Linked DNA regions of Homo sapiens. Changing the gene in region 5 together with the main gene of any one other region gives a genetic interaction. Each region holds a gene or a part of one and is shown on either strand. Other genes may lie near its edges.

Region 1 (3,500 bases), about 180 Mb from region 5:
TTAATTAAGAATCAAAATGAGATGACTATAAATATGACTAATCAGAAAAGGGAAAATTTAGGATGGCCAGAGAAAAGGGAAGGAGTAAATAGAATGTGAGGCATGAGAGACAGAGTAGATTGAACCAGAAAGAGGGGGTAGGGCATTCTCGGGCAAGGACAGCAGCATCTGTGCATCACATGTGCTCAGAATAGGAAAGACACCCTGTAGGTTGACATTTGATCTGGTAAGATGGAACCTTAAATCAACAATTCTTCCTGATTGGGAGAGAAAGCAATCATTAGATTAAGTGGGCTGAGCTTCTCCTCCTTTTGACTCTGAAAGATACAGTGTAGAGGCCAAAAACGGGAAACTTTGCTTCCAAACAGCTCTTCTGACAGTTAGGGCATGGTTTCCTTATTAGAGAAATAAATTTCATCCACTGACCCAGAAGTGAGTCAGCAAGCATCTAACAGAATTGGAAGCTTCAAGGGAGTGTCAAAGAGATTTAAGTTCAATTCACCAAATATTTATTGTGCCCTACTAGGTACAAAGCACTCTTCTAGGAGCTGTGGGAAAATATGAGATGAACTGGACATAGTTTTTATCCTGAAAAAACTCAGAAGCTAATTGGAGATGCAATACAGTACATGAGTAATACAAGGCAGAATATAGCTGGTGTCATGAGAGAGAAACAAAACACTTCCAAAGAGACCAGGTATAAGGGAACACCAAGTAATTATAAGGTCATTGACAAATGCTATGAACAGGGATGGGGGCTGTCAGAATTCAATAAACACGTAATAATGCTTATTTTATGTAAAATAGTATTTTATGTTATAGAGGCTCCAGGAGGACTTAGAAATGAAAATGTAGTGTGGGAAACAAATTGGAAAAGGTAGCTGGGGCCACACTGGAGAGGTCCTACTTTTTTCTTCTCCTCTGAGGCTCCTGCCATCATGCTCGCTATACCACCTTCTATTACCCCCATCCACATACTATTATTCTCTACCATCCTGGCTAATTCCAAAGTTGATATAACCACATTTAGTTGGGCTCACTATGTGCCAGGCACTCTTCAAAACCTTTTGTATAGATCAACTCATTTAATGCTCACAACAAACCTATGAGAAAGACATTGTCAATATAATCTCTATTTTCTGTTCTGAAACACAGAAAGACATTAAGTAAATTGTTCAAGATCACATTTCTACTGCAGTGATGAAGCTGAGATTCAAATTCAAATAATGTATCTCCAAAGTCCATGCTCTTTTTTTTTTTCTTTTTTTTGAGACAGAGTCTTGCTCTGTCGCCCAGGCTGGAGTACAGTGGCATGATCTCAGCTCAGTGCAATGTCCGCCTCCAGGGTTCAAGCGATTCTCCTACCTCAGCCTCCCGAATAGCTAGGATTACAGGCGCCCACCACCACACCTGGCTAATTTTTGTATTCTTAGTAGAGACAGGGATTCACCATGTTGGCCAGGCTGGTCTCAAACTCCTGACCTCAGGTGATCCGCCTGCCTTGGCCTCCCAAAGTGCTGGGATTACAGGCGTGAGCCACCATGCCTGGCCAACCAGGCTCTTAAGCATTCATTACACTATGTTATTCAATGACATAGTCATTCCACGCAAAATCTGAGCCTCCTAGTCCTTTGAAATCATTCCAAAGACCTTTGCCTCCACTACACTTATCTATGTCTTCCTGGCTTTACCTTCAAATTACTATCCCTCTAAAATCTGGAGAGCCAATAGAGAACTCTGCCCCACAAGCCCACAGCTTTCTCTTATGCCCACTAAACTTGGACTTGAATCATATTTCATCTCATAGTCTCAATACCACCATATTTCTATTGATCCCCATACTCCTCCTATTTTCAATTTAATTACTGGGAATGAGAGGTTGAGGGTAGAAGAAGACAGAGGAGAGGCAGTATATCCACAGAAGAGACAGAACTCATCAATTACTCAAATCTACTTTTCCTCTTGTGATCTCAAAAAATGACATCGATATCTAATCTGGTTGTCCAACCAGAAACATTGATTTCTCTCTCCCTCATCCTCCATTTCCAATAATCAGCAAGTCTTACCAGTTATCCTTACTAAGACAGTCCTTCATGAGCCAAGTTCTGCAGGCCTTTCTAGTTTATTCTCTTTTTTTTTTTTTTTTTTTTTTTTGAGATGGAGTCATGCTCTGTCACCCAGGCTGGAGTGCAGTGGCGCGATCTCGGCTCACTGCAACCTCCATCTCCCTGGTTCAAGCGATTCTCCTGCCTCAGCCTCCCAAGTAGATGGGATTACAGGCATGTGCCACCACACCTGGCTAATTTTTGTATTTTTAGTAGAGACAGGATTTCACCATGTTGGCCAGGCTGGTCTCGAACTCCTGACCTCAGGTGATCTGCCCGCTTCGGCCTCCCAAAGTACTGGGATTACAGGCATGAGCCACCGCACCCAGCCTCTAGTTTCTTCTCTTATCACTTTCCACCCTCAAATTCCATGCTCAAAACACAGTGAACAATTTATAGATTCCCAAAGGCTCCCTACTTTTTTGCTTTCAAATCTTGGTACATGCTGCTCCCTCTCCCTGGAATATCCTTCTCCCCTTCTTTACCAAGCTAATAATGCTATGTATCCTTCAAAAATAAGCTCAGCTGCTCCTTCCTCTGAGAGAATGTCTCCCTCCAACTTTATATGTCCTCACTTACATGTTCTATTAGAGCATCTACTTTAGTTTGTTTAGCATTTAATTGATTGTACTTGGCTGTTAACTTATTTCTCCCACTACACTCCTTTGAATACAGGGACTGGGTCTTTTAACTCCACACCCCTAATCTAGCACAATTTTCCCAATTTCCTTTATCATAAAAAATACTGGAGGAAAAGCATGAAAATTATAAAATCCCAAGCTCTACACCAGACCAACTGACTCAGAACCCCCAGAAGAGATTTTTAGCAAGTGTGTACATACACATACACATGCACATATATGTCCCTGCCAAGAATCCCCGGTGATTCTTATGACCAAGAAAATTTGAGAAAAAAAAAAACTGATCTAACAAGCTGCCTGGCAACAGCAGAATGCTCAGTAAAAGGTAGCTGAATGTGTAAATGAATAAGTGAAATAGGAAGCCAGTACAGCCTATTCAGGTGTAGTAGAGTGGAAAAAGCATGGCTTTTGAAGTCAACTCTGGGTTCAAATCCCAATTTCACTACTCTTTCTGATTCACGTTGTCCAAAAGGTTATGCCTGCTGTCCTTAGTTAAACTGTACACCTATCTGACTACAAACACACGTATAACAGCACATAGCTACCATGTTTGTGAGCCTCTACGTATACACAAAAGTAAAGCAAAAACAAGGGAGAAAAGACAGAAGAGATGACTTCACTATCACTGCCCACTAGGTGAAACTGATTCTGAATTTAGAATTTCCACCCTCCCTCTCCATACCACTGTTCCAAAGAAGAGTGATCTACAAATTAGAACTGATCTTCCATTAAGTATTTCCTTAGTGGCCATGAC
Region 2 (3,500 bases), on a different chromosome or scaffold from region 5:
GATCTGCATTTCAGAAAGAGCACTAACACTGGAAAGATATCAGAGCCAATACTGCTGAGGAGAAGACTATCAAGATAGGAGGCTCCTGCAGCCACTCAGTGACAAATGAGGACCTAAACAAGGTAGTGACTGTAGGATGAGAGAAGTGGATGGATTTGAAAGAAATAGAGAGGGTAGAATCCATAGGATAAGCTATTAAATTAGATGTAAAGAGGAAGGGGACAAAAGCAATAAGAATCAAGGATAGGCCGAGTGCGGTGGCTCATGCCTATAATCTCAGTACTTTGGGAGGCCGAGGTGGACAGATCCCTTGAGGCCAAGAGTTCAAGATCAGCCTGGCCAACAGGGTGAAACCTCGTCTCTACTAAAAATACAAAAAATAGCCAGGCATGGTGGCACGTGCTTGTAATCTCAGCTACCAGGGAGGCTGAGGCAGGAGAATCACTTGAACCTGGGAGGCAGGTTGCAGTGAGCTGAGATGGTACCACTGTACTCCAGCCTGGGAGACAGAGTGAGACCCAGTCTGAAGAAAAAAAAAAAAAAAAAAATCAAGGATGACCCCCAAAGTTTCTAACAGAGCACAGATTTTTCTCTTTTTCCTCTCCTGTTAAAAATCACCTCCCAAAAATATGGGGAATGACAAACAAAAAATGAGATCCTTCTTTGAGGAAACGAGATTATATCCCCACATATCTGAAAACATCTGAAAACAGATGAAAGCATGGCAACAGCCTTATCGGAGAGGAGAAAGACGACACTGAAATGCCTGCAAATGAGAATCTGGCAAGTGGTAAGTGATCAGTACCACAAAAAACTCAAAAGTCTCCAAAATTGGAGTCCCTAGAAATCTGAGAGATTAGAGGTGAGGTACAGACTAAAAACTGGGGTATTGGGTATGGAGAGACCCGACCTCCCCCAAATCCAGTTCCTCTCAATGCACTAGGAGAAAGGAGATTCATTATCTGGGAAAATCAAGTATGAGAAGTACCAAACCCAGAGAAATGAGGAAAGCAAAAGTTTGTAATAAAATGCCAGACTAAAAATAAGATGACTAAATGAAAGTTTGGACGGAGATCCCCTGGCTCCCTTAAGCTATCCAGATCCAAGTGCAACCTAATGGTCAACAAGTGAAGGCAGCTATAGAGTAGGCCTAGAAACCATTCAAATCAGGAGGACAGTGGCTTCAGGAAGGAGGTCGGGGTAGTGTGACAAGCAGGGAACAATCCACTCTGGAGAAATGAAATACATCATCTGATAGGGTTACCTGGGAAAAACTGTCCTGAGAGGCTACTGGAAGGTATGGAAAAGTTTAACCCCAGAAACAAACAAACAAACAAAACAATTCATCAAATGAAGAACAAGGCAACTATTACTGCCGGAAAAATGAAAAGTTGTACAGGAAGGTAAATAATGATAGCATACTTCTTGTTAGGGCAGATAGCAATATTTATAGTCATAATTTAACTACTGACTAATGATTTATCTAAAATTGTAATTTATATTAGGAGAATTGAAAAGAATACAGGAAAAGTACATGTGTACATACAAGAGATCAAATGATGTCTAAAACTGATGAACCAAACAACAGCACTACAAACAACTATTTTAAAATGAGGAGGTTGAACACAAACAGAAAGAATGATACAAGTTAAGTAGATGCATCTGGGGAATAGGATGCAAGATCACCAAGGATGAGGCAGGGAATACGGTTTCTCACTAGAAGCCTTTATGCTATTAGACTTTTGCTTATGTTTGTATACTACTTAGTATAGATTAAATTGTTAATTTAAAAAAGTAAAAAAAGTAATGAAGAGTACATGCAAAAAGTACTTGTAGTTTAGTCAAACTTACCTAGAAGAACCAACTTCTGCAGAGTCTCAGAATGATCCACATAGTCTCGAAGTGTGAATGAAGCTGGTGGCAATGGAGGGTCTGCAATAATCTGAATAGCCTCTTCCTCTGAAATTGGCTGCATTGGAGACAATGGAGGCAATTCATCCAGTTCTTTGAAAGAGAGAAACAAATTAGTGCTCTAATATGCACACTTAAAACTATTTCTGCAAAGACCAGCTCTTCCCTTGTTTGCTTCTTTCAGTGGTTAAATCTTGGGATCATTTTAGAATTAAACATCCAAGTCCCTAATTTTTCACCTTTTAAGAGGTAAGGTTACAACTATTTAGACAGACTAACTACTGTTCCTCTGAGATTAGAAATTTGTTGGTAAATTTCAAAGCACACAATGCCTTTCCTTCACTTAATCAGTAGGTGAGAATGCTAAAAATCACCTAACTTTCAAGTGAATTTTGAAACAGAGATTGAGTTTACCATAGCCTGTTAACTTGGCTAAAAGTACACATATGCCAACAGTCTGAATTGCATGGATTAAAGTAATCATATCCCGAAAGTCTTTGTTTTGACCCAATGCCCTCCCTTCCAAGTTACCCTCAAATACATCTTTAAAAGGGCTTCTATGATTGTTTCTACAACCTGCAGTCCTCTCTACAGGAGATGTGACTCTCTAGTACAGCCCTGATTCTGAAGTTGTTTTTGTTTTTTTAAAATCAAACGCAGCATGGAAGACACTTAGAACTACACATTACCTTAAGCTAAGGAATCAGGTCTGTGATCTTTTGTTCTGTTTTGTGCTTCTCATCATTAACTATCCTTTCTCATCATTTATAGCCAGCATCTCCTCCCTGCCCTCTCCCCAGCTCTCTTTCCTTCATATTCTACTTAACCTTATATCATTTCATTACCAGCGAAATATTCCTAGAATAGGACCCATAGGAAGGAGAGGATTGACTAAAAAGCGACCATGAGGGAACTCTGTGGAGTTAATATAATTGTTTTATTTGTTGATTGCAGTAGTTCTTACACACTAAATGCATATGTCAAAATTCATAGAACTATATATCCCACAAGATGAATTTTACTTGATATAATTATACCCTAATAAAACTAATTACCACTAGAAGAATTTTGTTTTAAGAATCTAAACAATAAAATATTTAAAAAGCAAATGTTTTATATGTGTAGCTATAAAATAATCTTACACGTTAGCCCACAAACTTTTTTTCTTACCAGTAAAATAAAGGCATGATAGAAGTTCATCAATAGAACTGGTATTATTCTTTTTCTTTCTTGGCACAAAATATTACCTGAAATGGGCTAGCAGAAGGTAAACAGGTAGCTTGTTCAAATGGCCAAAGTAGGGAAAGGGAGACTTTTCTGAAAGTTCAGAATTACCTTCTAGAAACAGCTCAGAATCAAAGCTGGATATATTTTGTGTCTTCTGTGACTGTTCATTCATGGAAGGAAGCAGACTGCTTTGGGCAGAATTATTCTCCTGACTACTTGAGCTAGTAGACTGGGAACTATTCCATAAGGAGGAAGTCCTGTAAGTCTTAAATCCCCACTGGAGAAAGCAATTGTCAGAGGATATCTGAGGCTGAGCAGAAAAGCCATGTAACAGTGTTCTTGCTGGTCTAGTAAAACGTTTT
Region 3 (3,500 bases), on a different chromosome or scaffold from region 5:
ATAGCAAGTTTTACCATTTAAAACACAAACCTATAAAATGTTCCCCAAATTCATACCTTAATTAATGCCTGGGCAGATACTTTAAGGTTACAAAAGAAAGTTATTTAAGCACCATATTTCAAAGATTTTTTTAAAGGACGTGTTTATTATACAAATATACTTGCTGGAAATATATTCACTAGTGTGTTAATAGTTCAAAAGGGACTAGACATTGTTCTGATGCCAGTTTCTCAAAATGTATTTAGACTCCCGTTTCAGAACTCTTTGGTGTATCTTCTGAGTATCTTCAGTGATGGCAAACTATTATCGATTGAGAGTGAATAGAGTTTTTGGAAGTAATCTTTTACTGAAGTAGGCGATAAATCTGAGTAATAAATGTTACTGGTTATCAACTATTTATACAACTACATCAGAATGTCATTGTATGTACTACAGTTTTTCAAGATAATTGACCATTCATCTCTGCTGGTAACAGGGATATTGTAGAAGTACTTGAGAAGATGTTGTAGTAGTACTTGAGAAGTCACAGCAATTAATGGTAAGGTTCAGCTAGAAAACCAGCCTAGAATCATGTATGTAGAAAAATAGGCAGAAAAGGAGGATTTGACATTTAAAAATTAATCTGGTGTCCAGTATACTTTTATTATAAAAAATAATCCTTCTCCTTTATCAGGTTGTGCTATTTATAACCTGTGATCTGAAATGTGGGGCTAGGGATATGAAGATATGTCTTCACATGAATTATGAAGACAAAATACCACGGGAAGTACAATGACAATACTCTGGCTTCAACTATCTGTCATTGTAAGTATGACTGCCTTACTTGGGGACTAGAAACCTACTTAAACTTAAAAACCTGCAAACTTAAGGAAAAAACAAAACTTACAAAAATTCATCAAATACATTTTTCTTTTTCTCTCTTTTTTTTTTTTTTTTGTTTTTTTAAGCAAGGTCCCACTCTGTTGCCCAGGCTAGAAGGCAATAGTGTGATCACAGCTCACTGCAGCCTCCAACTCCTGAGGCCACGTGATCCTATCCTCCCACTTCAGCCTCCTGAGTAGCTGGAATTACAGATGCAAGCCACCAGGCCTGGCTTAAATGCATTTTTTTCTTTAACAAAAATGAGAATAATCCAGTCAGTAAGTGAAGTGTCTCAGAAAGGTAATTTTAAAAAGCAAAATTCTTATTCCTTGCAAGATTTCAAAAAATTATTCCCTATGCTAGTAATGGAACCTAGAAATGAAAAAAAATATATAAGGAAACACTGAGTTTAAAAAATCAGAGGATTAAGTTTCACTATTTCTTTGCTGCTATCATTGGAAAATCAATGAAGAGTATACTCTGGAGAACAGCTGACATAACTTCTAATACAAACTTATTTTCAGCATGGAAGATTCAAAACTCAGAGGTAAGAAAATTTGTATTAGGTTGGAATAAACCCCAGGCAGAATATTTATTTTCTATTTTATGGAAGTAAGTCTCTGAGAACTTAAAGAGTTTTTATTAAAATGTATCTGAGCTATCGGTACAAATTTTTTACTTTTTTCTTTTTTTTAAGAAAAACACTTAAAAGATATAATCAGAGCATGGTGTTAGTAATAATAAAAAAGCTCCCCCTCAAATGTCTACCTTTAACCACTTTTGATGATTCCAATTTTTACCTCATGTATTTCTGGTTTGTCAAAGTAACTCTTTTAAAAGCCAAAAAGCATTTTTTTTGGGGGGGGGTGGGGGCAGGGTTTACTTATAATTGACACATAATTGTACATATATATGTATGGTGTGATGTCTCAATAAATATACATTGTATAATGATAAAATCAGGATAACTAGCATATCCATTACTTTAAACATGTATCATTTCTTTTATGGTGATAACATTCAAAATCCTCTCTTCTACCTATATTGAAATATACCTTACTATTAGCTATAGTCAGTCACCCTACTATATAACAGAATACCGGAATGTATTCTTCCTAACTAACTCTGTGCTTGTAGACCACCTCCGCCAGCTCTCCTCCCCACTATTTTCCCCCAGCCTCTGGTAAAACCATTCTGTTCTCTACTTCTATGAAATCAACTTTTAGATTCTACATAAAAGTGAGATCATGCAATATTTGTCTTTCTGTGCCTAGCTTATTACACTTAACATAATGTCCTCCAGGTTTATCCATGTCACCACAAACAATAGCAATTCATTCTGTTTATGGCTGAAGATTATTCTAGCGTGTGTGTGCATTCTCTAGAATATTCTTCAGCCATACGCGCGCACACACACACACATACACACACACACACACACCCACCACATCTTCTTTATCCATTCATTTGTAGATGGGGCACTTTAAAAAGCTAACATGTTCCTTTTGGAAGGACAGAGATATACTGGTATTTTGGCAATAGTTTTCCAAATATCCTTCTCATATTCCTGAAGATCTTTCTGCTTACTGGCCTGATATGGTTTGGATTTTTGTCCCCGCCCAAATCTCATGTCAAATTGTAATCCCCAATGTTAGAAGAGGGGCCTGGTGGGAAGTGATTGGATCATGGGGGCAGACTTCCCCCTTGCTGTTCTCGTGATAGTGAGTTCTCACAAGATCTTGTTTAAAAATGTGTAGCACCTCCCCCTTCCCTCTCTTCCTCCTGCTCCAGCCATGTAAGACATGTCCATCTCTCCTTCCCCTTTTGCCATGATTGTAAGTTTCCTGAGGCCTCCCTAGCCATGCTTCCTGAACAGCCTGTGGAACCACGAGCCAATTAAACCTCTTTTATTTATAAATTACCCAATCTTAGGTATTTCTTTATAGGAGTCCATCCATTCTATTAGGATGGACTAATACACAGCCTTACCCTTTTTACAGGTTCTTGGTTTGAAAGAAATAGAATACAGGTTATCTTGTGCATTTTTTTCACTCAGGTGCTACTAAAAAGCAGAAAGATTCAGGAGAGAACATGTGGAAAAACAGCCATTTATTTATAAGCCACATATATGAGAAAAAGGAGACTTTATGGCAAATATCCACATATATAAACAATAGAAAATAAAGATAGTAATTTGTTAGCTTGCGAGTAAGAAACAAAAAAAAAAAAGGAAAAAAAAAGAAGACACTTATACTTACCTTTACTAAGCAATTTTTATGTCCAGGTACAGAGCCATTTACATAGATTATGTTGTGCTTTGTGTTTATTCTCCACACCTAAAGCATGAAATAAAACCAAAAATTTTAGGATATACTTGTATTAAAACAATGTTACTAAAAGCTGAGGATGTAAGTTGCTTGTAAAGTAATAAAAGATTATTACCAGTACTTCAGAATGTTGAATAAGAACTGAAAAACTTCAAGTCCTATGGATGACTTGTAATAGAAGACCATAGCAAATATATCTTATGGAAGTAGTAGAAAACTCTCATTTTAAATAGAGATGTGACTGAATGATCAAGACTATTTGGATATTTCAAAGGACTCTGTTGGCACCATTAACAATAACAAGTGGAAATT
Region 4 (3,500 bases), on a different chromosome or scaffold from region 5:
GATATCAGGCTTTTTCACTTGGTATGAGCACTGACGGTACAAAAGCAATGGTGGTAAAACTGCTGGTCCTAAGCACAAATCAAACAGTGGTGCCAGACTAGATGAAAAGGCTTTGTATTCTCCAGCACATGCACTCAGTGAAAGAAAAGTGCCAGTGTCAATCTCGACACCTATTTTTAACATCATATGTAACAAAAGGGGAAGCATATGCCTAGTGTTCCAAGTTTGATGGGTGTCTTGAGGAAAAACACTTGTGCACTTGTGTGACTGACTGAGCACTGAGTTAAATCAGCTGCTTTTTTTTTTTTGAATTCCAATTTTACTTGAAAGAACGTCTGACAGAAAACTATAGCTAGCTAGACTTACGTATTTAGCAGACATTTTCTTGAAAATTAACAAAATGAGCTTGTCACTTTAAGGAAAACAAATGATAGTAACTTTTTCCAATGATAAAATTTGACCTTTCAAGTAAAAATTGAAATTTTGGAAAACCTGTATCTACCACGACATGATAGCATTCCAAAACTTAGATTTTTCTAATAAACTTTGCAGTGATATTAACAAATGTAATTTTCTGATACTGTATAAACAAAATGTCAACGTTTGCTAGATCTACGTAACTCAGTGAACCAGTATTTTCAAAATGAATAATTCATGAAGTTACAAAACATGCATGGATTTAAAAATCCACTAAATGTATAAAACAGATGTACAGATTATAATGTAACAAAGTACATGAAGTTTACTGGGGGTTTTGGATTCCATATTGCAGCTAACCTTTAAGCAACTATCATTTTTCCATGTGATGTCAAAGAACATTCCCAATTATCTGAAAAAGCTATTAAAATACTCCTCTCTTTCCAACCTCATCTGTGTGAGGCCACATTTTTCACTTACTTCAACTAAAACTTCAATGGATTAAATGTCTAAGCAGATGAGAATCCAAACTATGTCTTCCTTTACACCAGATATTAGAGAAGCAAAAATGTCAAACAATGGCACCTCTTCTCACTAAAGTTTTGCTTTAGAAAATATACTTTTTTTATAACATCATATATTAACATGTAATGTTTATTATTGCTATTTAAAAACAAATTAATAAATATTTTTAAACTTCTTAATTTTAATATCTAATATAATAAATATCCATAGATATAATCCATATAAACAGAAACTCTTTGGGAATTTCAATTTTGTTTTTAAGAGTGTAAAGCAGTCCTGAGACCAAAAAGCTTAAAGTATTACTACTTTAAAATTATGGATAGCTGAAAACGATGCTCAACGCAGTTATTAATAGAATGATGGTACACAAAAGAGCTTCCATAAATGAGTGAAATAGTGAAGATATCAAAACAACAGGCTTTTTTCAAACAAATGAAAAGTATCTTTTTAGTATGTTACAACTATAGTAATTAGTAGAATCATGGCACACTTTAATTCATCTGTTGTTGTTTGTAGTCACATATTCACCGTACCTGTTACATGAGTTGCTCTAGCCAAGGTCAATATCAAGGCTCGGTTCAGTTCTTCAGATTCTGCTGAGAGCACTGTTTTGGGATCACTAAGGAAGCGTGTAAACTGCGGTTGTACCTCTGAGCTACCTAATGCTGTTATAAGCCTGAGAGCAGTGCTCTCGACACTGAAAATTGGGAGAATAAAAAGAAATGTAAAAAAATTTCAGAATTATGGAATTAAATCTAAGGTTAATTACAATGGAAAAACATGCAATCTATGACTATCCCTTCTTTAAAAAAACACTTTTGTGTGAGAATAAATGTTGCTTAATTTGTTTAAAAAACCTAATGTGTCCAATTTTATAGTGAAAATCGTGACTTTTTACACATTTGAAAAAGATGGCTTGTCGCCTATAGGACTAAAAAATTTCACCTGGAGATACTGCATTTCAAAAATTATATTTTTCTATCTAAAATATATTTTAATGTAAAGCAAAATCAATGTGACATGATACTTTAACCATAATCTGAAGTATACTTAAAACCAGCATTCTAAAGGGCTAAGTTACAACATAATAATAAATACCCTGGAAGTACTAATTCTCAGTCCAAAGATCCTGAAGGAAGGACTCAACTATCTTAATCAGTTTCTATTTAAAAAGCTGGACTCTGCTCCTATACTGGAAACAAAATACTTTAGAAGCAGAGAAGTTTTATGACAGATGAATAATAATAAAAAAAAAAACTATAAGGTAAAGGTAAAGGATTAAGAACCTCATCTCCAAGAAAGTTTCTAATAAATCTTAAGGAAAGATGGTCTTCAATGAGCTCACCAAAGATGGAGCTGGTTCTGGTTTGTTTGTGCAACTGCAGCCAAAGTATGAAGATGACTCAGGAGCTGAACTCTGTAATGAGGCTGAATATGATGCATCCGGTAGCTAAACATCTCAAGGAGTGTGTGTAAGATCCCCCATGCATGTGATTTGAAAACAGTTGGCAAAAGCTGACCTGGAGGAAAAAGACAATTTAAGGTACCAATTATTAAAGGCTATGCATGAAAAGATATTTGAAGAAAGTCACATTGAGTAAAATATAAAGATTTGATTGTGAAAATACACACGCCCACACACATATATATTCTCCATATTTTCTTATTTTCTACTTTAACAGTAAGGAAAAATTCAGATCCTAACTATAATATCAAGTTTGCTTTTTTCCTGGGATTTGGCAATTGATAATCATGTTTATCTGGAAAAATAAAATGAGACAAGATATGAAAAAACATTAATCTTCTCAATTCTGATATCTTTTATTTTTAGACAATTAATGTTCCATACCTTTTGAAGTATGAGGTTCACTTTTTAATACAAAAAATTGTATTATACCTGCCCTTGTTTCCTCCTACCCCCAAGAAAGTTTTGTTCAACAATCAGTTATCTAAGAAGAGTTATTGTGGTTAAAATTAAGACTATGCTGTATTCGTGAAAAGCTGGAATTACCATGAATCAGAAAAACACTTCTATATCAGAAAGTATCTATTATTTTAGAACTATATAATAAATGAGACATTATAATGTATCTTCTGCAAGGTAGGAAAATTCCTTCTTTATTTCCAGTCAGACTTCGTATGCACTGGAGGACAGCATTGCTGCCTCAGGCAGAATCCATTTGCATGAGGACAGGGACCAGGTCTATCCTGCTCACTGCATCCCAGGCACCTAGCACATTAACCTTTTCTTACCACTTTACTTAAAAATGCAACAAACCCCCCAACCCTCACACTTCCTATTCCTTTTTGCTTTATTTTTCTCTATAACATGTATCATCTGACATATTGTATATTTCATTTATTTAATGTCCTCCTCCATAAGCTCCATCATGGTGGTGACTTGTTCTCTGCTGTGTCCCCAGGACCTAGAAAAGTAACTTTAGAGTTAATGAATGGGTTAATAGTTATAAACACCAGAAAGTCCTGTCTTACTGATAAATCCTTTGATGCCCAAAGACTCTATTTCCATATAGACCAATAAACGACTGTAAGTTTCC
Region 5 (2,974 bases):
CTCAGGGCCCCTTTCCAGGCCCCCTGACTGGGGCACACCCTGGTACCGTTGGCTCTCAGAGCACAGTATGCCTCCGCTTCAAGCACCTTTCACACCTGCAGTCTTCCACCTGCATCCGGGTGATTTTGACAGATCTGTTTCCCCCACTAGACTCTGATTTCCTTGAAGGAAATGTGTCTTTGTGTCCCCAGAGCTGGCACAGGGTAGGCGCTCTGTGGAAGGGAGGAAGGAAGAGAGGAAGGGAGGGAGAAGGAAAAAAGGTACTTAGATGGGTGATGATAGGGGCAGAGTAGGAGGTAGATGGGGTTCCTGCAGGGTGAGCCTCAGCTGGGCTGGGCTTTGGGGTGGGGCTCTTTTGAGGAAGTGAAGTCTGAGCTCAGACCCAAAGGCGCAGTTTAGGGCATGTGGTAGTCGGCGGGGATAGGGGGGTGGGTGGGGGGAACCTTCCAGGCAAAGGGAACAGCATGTGCGGAGTCCCTGAGGCAGAGCCCAAGCACAGGATTGGTAAGAGTGGTGCAGGGTCAGGGGTAGGGGGGCCAGCCAGCTGGTGGCACCTGAAGGTCCTGGGTGGCCTTAGTGAGGGGTCAGGGTTTGTCTCCAAGTGCAGGGGGATCGCGGCGGTGGGGGCGATTTTAGCAGGGGCAGGCCACACTGGTGGCTGCTGGTGGGGAATGGGTGGGAAGGTGGCAGGACTGGATGTGAGGAGACAGCTCTGGTGGCTTGTGCAGGGGTTCAATTTCCCCCTCCCCATGGGACCCCAGAGCTAACTGGGCATCACAGGTGGGCTCTGGGATTCTTGATCCCATGAGGAAGTATTACCCTAGGGGCTGCCTTGCCTGCCCCAGACCTTTGGGAACATGCCTCTGCTTCTCTCTTGCCCTCTGCAGGTGACGCTGGAGTGCCCGGGCCACGAGGAGGTGCCCAGGGTGGACAAGCTGGTGGAGAAGATCCTGCACTGTAGCTGCCAGGCCTGCGGCAAGGAGCCTAGTCACGAGGGGCTGAGCGTCTATGTGCAGGGCGAGGACGGGCCGGGATCCCAGCCCGGCACCCACCCTCACCCCCATCCCCACCCCCATCCTGGCGGGCAGACCCCTGAGCCCGAGGACCCCCCTGGGGCCCCCCACACAGAGGAAGAGGGGGCTGAGGACTGAGGCCCCCCCAACTCTTCCTCCCCTCTCATCCCCCTGTGGAATGTTGGGTCTCACTCTCTGGGGAAGTCAGGGGAGAAGCTGAAGCCCCCCTTTGGCACTGGATGGACTTGGCTTCAGACTCGGACTTGAATGCTGCCCGGTTGCCATGGAGATCTGAAGGGGCGGGGTTAGAGCCAAGCTGCACAATTTAATATATTCAAGAGTGGGGGGAGGAAGCAGAGGTCTTCAGGGCTCTTTTTTTGGGGGGGGTGGTCTCTTCCTGTCTGGCTTCTAGAGATGTGCCTGTGGGAGGGGGAGGAAGTTGGCTGAGCCATTGAGTGCTGGGGGAGGCCATCCAAGATGGCATGAATCGGGCTAAGGTCCCTGGGGGTGCAGATGGTACTGCTGAGGTCCCGGGCTTAGTGTGAGCATCTTGCCAGCCTCAGGCTTGAGGGAGGGCTGGGCTAGAAAGACCACTGGCAGAAACAGGAGGCTCCGGCCCACAGGTTTCCCCAAGGCCTCTCACCCCACTTCCCATCTCCAGGGAAGCGTCGCCCCAGTGGCACTGAAGTGGCCCTCCCTCAGCGGAGGGGTTTGGGAGTCAGGCCTGGGCAGGACCCTGCTGACTCGTGGCGCGGGAGCTGGGAGCCAGGCTCTCCGGGCCTTTCTCTGGCTTCCTTGGCTTGCCTGGTGGGGGAAGGGGAGGAGGGGAAGAAGGAAAGGGAAGAGTCTTCCAAGGCCAGAAGGAGGGGGACAACCCCCCAAGACCATCCCTGAAGACGAGCATCCCCCTCCTCTCCCTGTTAGAAATGTTAGTGCCCCGCACTGTGCCCCAAGTTCTAGGCCCCCCAGAAAGCTGCCAGAGCCGGCCGCCTTCTCCCCTCTCCCAGGGATGCTCTTTGTAAATATCGGATGGGTGTGGGAGTGAGGGGTTACCTCCCTCGCCCCAAGGTTCCAGAGGCCCTAGGCGGGATGGGCTCGCTGAACCTCGAGGAACTCCAGGACGAGGAGGACATGGGACTTGCGTGGACAGTCAGGGTTCACTTGGGCTCTCTCTAGCTCCCCAATTCTGCCTGCCTCCTCCCTCCCAGCTGCACTTTAACCCTAGAAGGTGGGGACCTGGGGGGAGGGACAGGGCAGGCGGGCCCATGAAGAAAGCCCCTCGTTGCCCAGCACTGTCTGCGTCTGCTCTTCTGTGCCCAGGGTGGCTGCCAGCCCACTGCCTCCTGCCTGGGGTGGCCTGGCCCTCCTGGCTGTTGCGACGCGGGCTTCTGGAGCTTGTCACCATTGGACAGTCTCCCTGATGGACCCTCAGTCTTCTCATGAATAAATTCCTTCAACGCCTGTGTTCTCCTCCTCACTGACTGGCTCTGCCGACCCAGGTTCTCCAGAAGTGCCGGCAGCGAGGCCCAGAGGCAGCAGGGCCTGGGCTCGGGCAGTGGGGTGCTGAGCAGGCCTGCCTGGCCCCCACGCGGCACCACTGTCTCTGCATCCTTGTGGCCCTCTCCCTGTCTTGCCCTGTGCACCCCTGGCTCCTGATCCTCTGTCTCCCCAGCTTTCATGTCTTTCCTTGGGTGCCAGTTTCTGGCCTCGCATACACCTTGGGTGGGCCTCCAGAACTGGGCTTCATGGATTTTGGCCCCTGGTCTTGTGGGCTTGCCTCATGCCATCTCTTCACCCACACAATGGCCCAGGATCAGCCCTTGCCTGGGCCTGGCCTGCCTGGCCCCCTGGGAGAAGGGGAAACAGACAAAAGTATTGGTTACAGATTAATATATAAGGCTGGGCCCTGTGCAGGGTCCTCGCCCAGTCCGCACCACCTCCCAGTGATGCGGATATTGTCC
Region 6 (3,500 bases), on a different chromosome or scaffold from region 5:
TCCTAACACTCAACAAGCTTCTGCTGGTGTGTTCTTGGTCCTGTGGTTCCACTTTCCCACTTTAAAAATAGTAATAATAGAACGCACCTCAAGAGTTGTTTTGCTGATGCAAGTACACAAGCCTTATAAAATGCTTACCACCATACCTGCCTATGTAGTAAGCACAGAATTCATATATGCTGTTATTCTACTGTTATTATTATTATGGTCATTAAGTCTTAAACATATCAATACTAAACATTTTCATTACATCTTAGTTGTAAAAAGGTTTGCACTTTCAAGTACTACAGATCTTGGATTTTAGTCTAATTGAAGATAATATAGAATTCTATTTTTTGTCTAGCGTTCATTCTACTATTAAGCTCTAAAAGGCTAGAACTACATTTCCCATTCAATACTTCGTAAGTTATTAGAACAAAATACATGTTGACGTTAATATAAAAATGAACATTAGGTGATTTCATGTCCTTTCCTTGTTTCAACAATTAAAAAACTACACATGCACAAAATGCTCCCATATAAAATACTACAAACAGGTGAGATAACTAGAAGACACCAGAAAGTTCATGGAAAATAACTTACAACAGCTGAGAGAAACTGCAGGTCAAATTATTAAATCATATCTCATGTCTAAAACAATGGAACCTACTGGAGAGTTTCCCTTCACAGCAGACAACAGTCTCTCCCACCACGGGAACCCTTTTTAAAAGTTCTACCATAGTAATGAGTACAAAGCAAAGAACAGGCAACCAAGCACAACTGCCTAAAAATCTGAGAAAACAAACGCGCAAGCATCAAAAGAATTCACTCATGAAAACCAGAAGATTCATTACATTTGGGTGACTGTTCACATATTTTATATTCTTCTACTAATAAAAGAACAATATATGCAGATGTTTTGTTCATACACACAAACATACATATATTCACACACTAAAAATGCACATATACATTTATCTAAAAAACTCAACTTGCATTACAATCTGGAAAATAATTAAGTTAATGTAAGCATTTAAATTTTTAATTAGAAATTAAGTCACCCATTAACAGAAATTACTTAAATGTATAGATTATGTTCCTAATATTCCTTTCATTAGTATAAAATTCAACTTCAAAATTAGAGAAATGAATTATCCAACTTTCTTACCTTAAAATACTGTTTTACTTTTTCTTGCAAAAATTTTGGATTTTCCTGCAGGCACTGTCTGAATTTAGCTAACTGATTTCCCAACTTCAAGAGCTCCACAGGGTCCCCATCATGGTTCCAGCAAGAAGCTATGTACTGGAAGGAAGATTTCCACATCCACAATGCAGCTGGTACCACAGTACAACCTCCACCAACAGCCCAGACTTGATACTAAAATCCTAGTTTCTGTATTTAAATATACCACAGATGATTGTTTATAACAAAAGTCATGTAATTCTTTGGATGGAGAAACAAAAAAACTTACTTTAGCCCTGTTTTGTTCCAATAAAATAAAAAGCACAGGCTGAAATAATGTTTAGGAAATAACCAACAGATTACTAGTTATAAACCCTTACCCATTTAAAGTAATCTATTTCACATAAAAATATCAAAAAGCCAGTTAAGCTAGTAACAAGACAAAATGTCTATTATAAAACAAAAACAAAATTGTTGAGAGATCACTTACTGATGTCAGCATCAGCCCAAAGCTGGTAGACTGATGTTTCATCTGTATTTCAATTTTATGAAGTAAAGCCTCAATTCGATCATCTTCAAATCCTTTCCTAAAGAATACAATGAAGAACAAAGATGGGCCAGACACAATGGCTCATGCTTGTAATCCCAGCACTTTGGGAGGCCAAGGCAGGAGGACTGCTTGAGGCCAGGCATTTAAGACCAGCTTGGGCAACACAGAGAAAGCCCATCTCTACTACACAAAAATTAGCTGGGCATGGTGGTGTGCACCCTAGTTCCAGCTACTTGGGAGGCTGAGGTGGAAGGATCACCTGAGCCTGGTAGGGGAGGAAAATGCAGTGAGCTGAGATCACGCCACTGCACAGCAGGCTGGGTGACAAAGCGAGACCCTGTCTCAAAACAAAACAAAAACCTAAGATGTTGAAGAGTTTTAGTAACAGAAGGTAGCAGAGATAATATTTAAACAACTAAATATGAACAAAAGCATGTTATATGACAGAGAAGGAAGGCCGAAACAATGGATCAGGCTCAGCTTCTCCCAAAAAGCACACAGGAATGAGGAACGAAAGCAGATTGTTACAAACAAGCTACACTCACTCAACTACTTCATCAATCGTTCTGTCTATGAGGCTTCTGACGGTCTCAATGTCTTTCTCCGCAATCCCTTGGAGGCCGACACTAAAGTAGGCCTCCCTCGTGTAGCCATTATATCTAGAAGACAAAACCAGAAATGATGCACTGGAATCCGGGCACGTTCATCATGCCCTCGTAATATGCTTGATTTAAAGATCAGAACGAAGCGCCTTAAACTCCAGCCCCTCCACTGAAAAGCTCATTAAAGCAGTGTTCTCAAGTAACTGGTTCTGTGTACATCCATGTCATTTTTACATCATTTTTTAAAAATAAAATTTAAACTTTTGAGTTATGGCAGGATAAATATCAAAACAGAGAACTGCTGAGATTTACAAAATTTTAAAAATTCCTGTAGTCCCAGCTACTCTGGAGGCTGAGGCAGGAGAATGGTGTGAACCCGGGAGGTGGAGCTTGCAGTGAGCCGAGATCGCGTCACTGCACTCCAGCCTGGGCGACAGGGAGAGACTCCATCTAAAAAAAAAATTCTAATACTTAATGACCTGACCTGTAAGAGACAACAGCATGACATTCTGAGGCCCTGGAAAAGCTGTCTTTGTGCTGGGTGTTTTTCTTTTGGACAAATGTCCCCTTGGGGGGACACAAATGGCTGGCACTGGATCCAGGATCTCATCCAGAGTTCCCTGATGGGGGCGGCCATCCTGTGTACCATGAGACACTCAGCAACTTCCTGGTCCGCCATCTTCCGATTATAGCAATCAAAAATCCAAAAATGTTCCAGACACTGTCAAGTGTGGGGCCGGGACAGGGTGCGGAGGTGGAGGAGCAAAACTGCCCCCAACCAATGAGAACTACTGATCTAATCTAATCATAAACTCACCCAACATCAGGAGAAAAGTCTGTGCCAAGGCCAGATTCAATCAAGGCTTTGTAAAAGGGAGAATTGGGCCCAGAAGTCAAGAGTGAAGACAGAAGACTTAATGTGAAGGCTTCAAATGTGTCGGTGATGCTGCATTGAAAAAAAAAGGAACGGGGAGGTAAGAAAAGAGTAAAGGGAAAATTACTGGCCCTTATGCACATTTTATTTAAAACCACTACACATCTTTCTAGAAATTCTTGCATTTCAACATTTAACAATTTTATGAGCAGAAGAGAATTTTCCTTAAATACCGGGATTTTTGAAGGGGGGCACAAACCATCAAATTAACTTCACTGCACACGAAATGCTCACCATGGGACAGCCTGCCAA
Region 7 (3,500 bases), on a different chromosome or scaffold from region 5:
TTCTAGAATGCCATTTGGCCCTTGAAAACATGTGGCTCTAACTCAGGAACTTGAGGGATGCAGGGAGGATTTAATCAGGTTACTCAAGATCTTTAAAAAGACCTAGGATATAGAGTCTCCCTTGGGCAGTGCCATTCTGCTCCTCTTGGGGCTCGGTGAGGTGCTCTCCTCCACCTGGTGCCTGTGCCCAGAGGCTGTCACTCAAGCACAATGGTTAGGAGCACTCAGGCTTAGGGGCCAGGGCTGTCTTTTGGGGGGCGTGTCTGCCATTTATTAGGTTCAGCCTTGAGCAATTACCTAATTTCTCTGATCCTCACTTTCCTTCTTGAGTGATGGAGATTGGAGTGCCTTTGTCATGGGATTATTGTGAGGTTGAAATGAGGTAGTGGAGAAAGTGGGCTCAGTAGGGCCCTGCGTGTAGAAGGGCCCAGCAAATGATGGCAGTTTTTACCAGCTTGTGGTCACCGTATCAAATGCTCTTTTGCAGCAATTCTGACGACAATATGTTGAAAAACATTGAACTGTTTGATAAGCTGTCTCTGCGCTTTAACGGAAGGGTCCTGTTCATAAAGGATGTTATTGGGGATGAAATCTGCTGCTGGTCCTTTTATGGTCAGGGCCGGAAGATTGCTGAAGTCTGTTGTACCTCCATCGTCTATGCCACTGAGAAGAAACAGACCAAGGTAAGAGCCTCGAGAGGACAGTTTGGAGTGGCTGTTCTGAAACACACACCTATAGAACTTCCTTTCACTTGAGCCCAATACAGAGGGAAATGCTTTTAAAATGCTTTGCTTGCCTTGTGATTGCTCATCCTTAAAATATTTATCTTTTAGGCCCTGCAAGGAGCCAAATGTAGGGTTCATCTGGCATTCCTTTAGCTCCCTACCTTGCTGGCTTCCTTCCAAGCATGCTTGACTCCCTGACTGGGCTGGACTCTGGGGATGTGTTTTTATATCATCCTCTCCAAACCAGTAGGCTTGACCTATCCTTTGACTTCTCCCACCATGCCGTTCCACAAAGCTGGATTGCTCTGCATAGTGCTGCTAGAGATCTGGCCCCCCCTTAATTGAATTTGCCTGCCCTTTTGGGGCTCTGCAATTGGGTTTTCTGTCTTTTTAAACTTTTAATTCACATTATACACTCTGTCATTTCTTTAACGTGTCTAAGGGAATTCTGGCTATCCAGTGACATGCAGCAGGTCTGCTGTGGGCCGACGGTCATGCCTCTTGTCACCCTTGCACAGGAGTCTTAAGAGCCTGAGCCTGTAGGTCACTTACCCAGGTTACTATTGTCCCTGCAGCTTTTGGGGCCACAGTTCTGCATGATTCTGTAGCTGACCTCGAACAAAAAGCAAATGAGAAGAAATCATCACATCACAAAGTAGAAACCAGAGTCTTTTTTTTTTTTAACTTATTATTGAAAATTGAAGCCATACACAGAATTATAGTGTGGTGATTTCCCCTGTGCCATCACGCCACGTCAAGGGCCATCAGCTTGGGCACTCTCACTCAGTCTGTATCTACTCCTCCTCCCCAGCACTCACAGGATGAATTTGACAACATATTTTATTCCTAAGCATTCAAAATCTATCCTAAAAGAATAGATATTGTTCTTAAGGTAGCCAAGAAGTGCTAAACACTGAGGTTCTTTTTGCTTTCAAAGATCCCGGGGGCAGGGGGTGAACCAGAATCATCTGCCTCTCTCTCCACATTGGCAAGACATCATGCCCCTTTTCTCCTGTGAACTGTTTTTTTTTTTTCAGGGCTGTGAATTCTTCCTGTAATTAGACCCCCATTCTGTCATGGTTTGATTTTTTAAAAATATACCTGGGCTGCCTCTGCCCTTGGGTAGTAAGAGGAGAGTCACCATATTGATTAAGCTTTAAAAGATTAAGACTTCTCATTTTTAGAGCTTAATAAGGAACAAGGGGATTTAGAGACCACATGGTCTGATCCCAACTGTTTCTAGATTAGCAGACAGGTTCAGGAGTGGCATGTTCTTGTGTTTGTAAAGCTAGTTAGTGGCAGAGCCAGGATGGGAAGCCAAGGGCCTCTTTCTTTTCTCTTTGTTTTGAGAGAGAGTGTTGCTCTGTCACCCAGGCTTGAGTACAGTGACACAATCATAGCTCAATGCAGCCTTGAACTCCTGGGCTCAAGTGATCCTCCTGCCTCAGCCTCCTGAGTAGCTGGGTCCACAGGTGCATGCTACTACACCTGGCTCATTTTATTTATTTTTGTAGGGACTGGCTTTCACTATGTTGCCCAGGCTGGTCTCGACCTCCTGGCCTCAAGTGGTCCTTCTACCTTGGCCTCCCAAAGTGTTGGGATTACAGGCATGAGCCACTGCACCCAGCCCATATCACTCTCCTCTCCTGTCTCATCTCCACTCTGTTATTGAGCCCTGCTGGTAAGTTGTGTTTTTGTTTGAGGTTGTTGGTTATTGTATTTGTCAGTTCTCAAGTGCTCATTTGGTTTTTCTGTCTCCTTGCTGAGACTCCCTATGTTTCCATTTGCTCTAAGAGCATTGGCCCTTACTTACTGGAACAGGTTAATAATAGCTGCTGCCAGGTCTTTGTCAGGTAATTCCAAAACCTTGTGTCACCTTGGCGCTAGCATCTGTGAGTTATTTCCCACAGGAGTTGAGAATTTCTTGGTTCTTGTGTATTGAGAAATTTTGATTGTATCCTAAACATTTTGAATATTGTTAAAGGACTCCAGGCCTTGTTTAAATCCTAGGGAGAACATTGATGTTTTTGTTTTAGCAGGCAATTGACCCAGTTGGGCTCAGGCTGCAAGCTCTAACCAGCCTTCTGTAGTTTGTAGTTGCGGTGACAGTTTGATTTTCAAAGCCTTCAAATCTGTCCTAGCTGTGTGCCATGCTGTGGCCCGTCTGTCCTGGGCAGTATCTCTTGCAGCATTCAGTTCTTTCAGTCTGCGTATGCAGTTTAGGGGTAGATCTTGCAGCTGGGTGTGGGTCTAGGAGTTCATATACAACTTCACAGGCTGCTTTCTCAAGCTCCTCTTCTCCGCAGTTCTCTAAGCTTCCCTGGAGTCCCCTTCTCTGATCGGCCAGCCAGAAAGCTGGGGGTTTGGTTATTCCCCCTTTGCCACCCACTTTCTGTAACCATGCCTGTATTTTGGGCCCAGGAGCATGAAGATAGAAAAAGCAACCAGATTCTCCCAATCCTGCTGAGACCACAGCTCTTCTCATCAGAAAAGAAGGTTCCTTCCCTCAGAGTTTTGACTCCTGCAGTCTCTGGTTGCTGCCACAGGAATGCTCAGGTCTGGGTGCAAGAAAATAAAGAAAAGGACTGAGCATGGTGGCTCACACCTGTAATCCCGCACTTTGGGAGGCCAAAGCAGAAGGATTGCTTGAGTCCAGGAGTTTAAGACCAGCCTGGGCAACATAGCAACACCCCTGTCTCTACCAAAAATTTTTTAAAAAATAGCTGGGCATGGTGGTGTGTGCCTGTAGTCTAAACTACTTGGGAGGCTGAGGTG

The links.
Region 1: changes in MICOS10-NBL1 (region 5) and KIF14 together harm fitness more than expected from each alone (negative genetic interaction), as found in Homo sapiens cells (one large-scale study listed by BioGRID).
Region 2: changes in MICOS10-NBL1 (region 5) and MTERF3 together harm fitness less than expected from each alone (positive genetic interaction), as found in Homo sapiens cells (one large-scale study listed by BioGRID).
Region 3: changes in MICOS10-NBL1 (region 5) and MRPL3 together harm fitness less than expected from each alone (positive genetic interaction), as found in Homo sapiens cells (one large-scale study listed by BioGRID).
Region 4: changes in MICOS10-NBL1 (region 5) and MED23 together harm fitness more than expected from each alone (negative genetic interaction), as found in Homo sapiens cells (one large-scale study listed by BioGRID).
Region 6: changes in MICOS10-NBL1 (region 5) and PITRM1 together harm fitness more than expected from each alone (negative genetic interaction), as found in Homo sapiens cells (one large-scale study listed by BioGRID).
Region 7: changes in MICOS10-NBL1 (region 5) and KCTD10 together harm fitness more than expected from each alone (negative genetic interaction), as found in Homo sapiens cells (one large-scale study listed by BioGRID).

The regions. Positions count from the first base shown.
Region 1 is NC_000001.11:200,610,752-200,614,251, forward strand, and holds part of KIF14 (kinesin-like protein KIF14), read right to left. Parts: intron 1-3,500. UniProt on the Homo sapiens protein: Microtubule motor protein that binds to microtubules with high affinity through each tubulin heterodimer and has an ATPase activity. Plays a role in many processes like cell division, cytokinesis and also in cell proliferation and apoptosis.
Region 2 is NC_000008.11:96,255,111-96,258,610, forward strand, and holds part of MTERF3 (transcription termination factor 3, mitochondrial isoform 1 precursor), read right to left. Parts: coding exon 3,247-3,500; exon of another isoform or gene 3,112-3,246; coding exon of another isoform or gene 3,082-3,111; intron 2,005-3,081; coding exon 1,852-2,004; intron 1-1,851.
Region 3 is NC_000003.12:131,464,972-131,468,471, forward strand, and holds part of MRPL3 (large ribosomal subunit protein uL3m), read right to left. Parts: intron 3,198-3,500; coding exon 3,120-3,197; intron 1-3,119.
Region 4 is NC_000006.12:131,600,743-131,604,242, forward strand, and holds part of MED23 (mediator of RNA polymerase II transcription subunit 23), read right to left. Parts: coding exon 3,436-3,500; intron 2,463-3,435; coding exon 2,288-2,462; intron 1,640-2,287; coding exon 1,476-1,639; intron 1-1,475. UniProt on the Homo sapiens protein: Required for transcriptional activation subsequent to the assembly of the pre-initiation complex. Component of the Mediator complex, a coactivator involved in the regulated transcription of nearly all RNA polymerase II-dependent genes.
Region 5 is NC_000001.11:19,655,979-19,658,952, forward strand, and holds the end of MICOS10-NBL1 (neuroblastoma suppressor of tumorigenicity 1 isoform a precursor), read left to right. Parts: intron 1-887; coding exon 888-1,151; 3' UTR 1,152-2,474; downstream 2,475-2,974. Other genes in the region: NBL1 (neuroblastoma suppressor of tumorigenicity 1), read left to right, coding at 888-1,151. UniProt on the Homo sapiens protein: Possible candidate as a tumor suppressor gene of neuroblastoma. May play an important role in preventing cells from entering the final stage (G1/S) of the transformation process.
Region 6 is NC_000010.11:3,155,783-3,159,282, forward strand, and holds part of PITRM1 (presequence protease, mitochondrial isoform 2 precursor), read right to left. Parts: intron 3,261-3,500; coding exon 3,132-3,260; intron 2,372-3,131; coding exon 2,258-2,371; intron 1,750-2,257; coding exon 1,653-1,749; intron 1,283-1,652; coding exon 1,148-1,282; intron 1-1,147. UniProt on the Homo sapiens protein: Metalloendopeptidase of the mitochondrial matrix that functions in peptide cleavage and degradation rather than in protein processing. Has an ATP-independent activity. Specifically cleaves peptides in the range of 5 to 65 residues.
Region 7 is NC_000012.12:109,453,301-109,456,800, reverse strand, and holds part of KCTD10 (BTB/POZ domain-containing adapter for CUL3-mediated RhoA degradation protein 3), read left to right. Parts: intron 1-487; coding exon 488-683; intron 684-3,146; coding exon of another isoform or gene 3,147-3,314; exon of another isoform or gene 3,315-3,500. UniProt on the Homo sapiens protein: Substrate-specific adapter of a BCR (BTB-CUL3-RBX1) E3 ubiquitin-protein ligase complex. The BCR(BACURD3) E3 ubiquitin ligase complex mediates the ubiquitination of target proteins, leading to their degradation by the proteasome.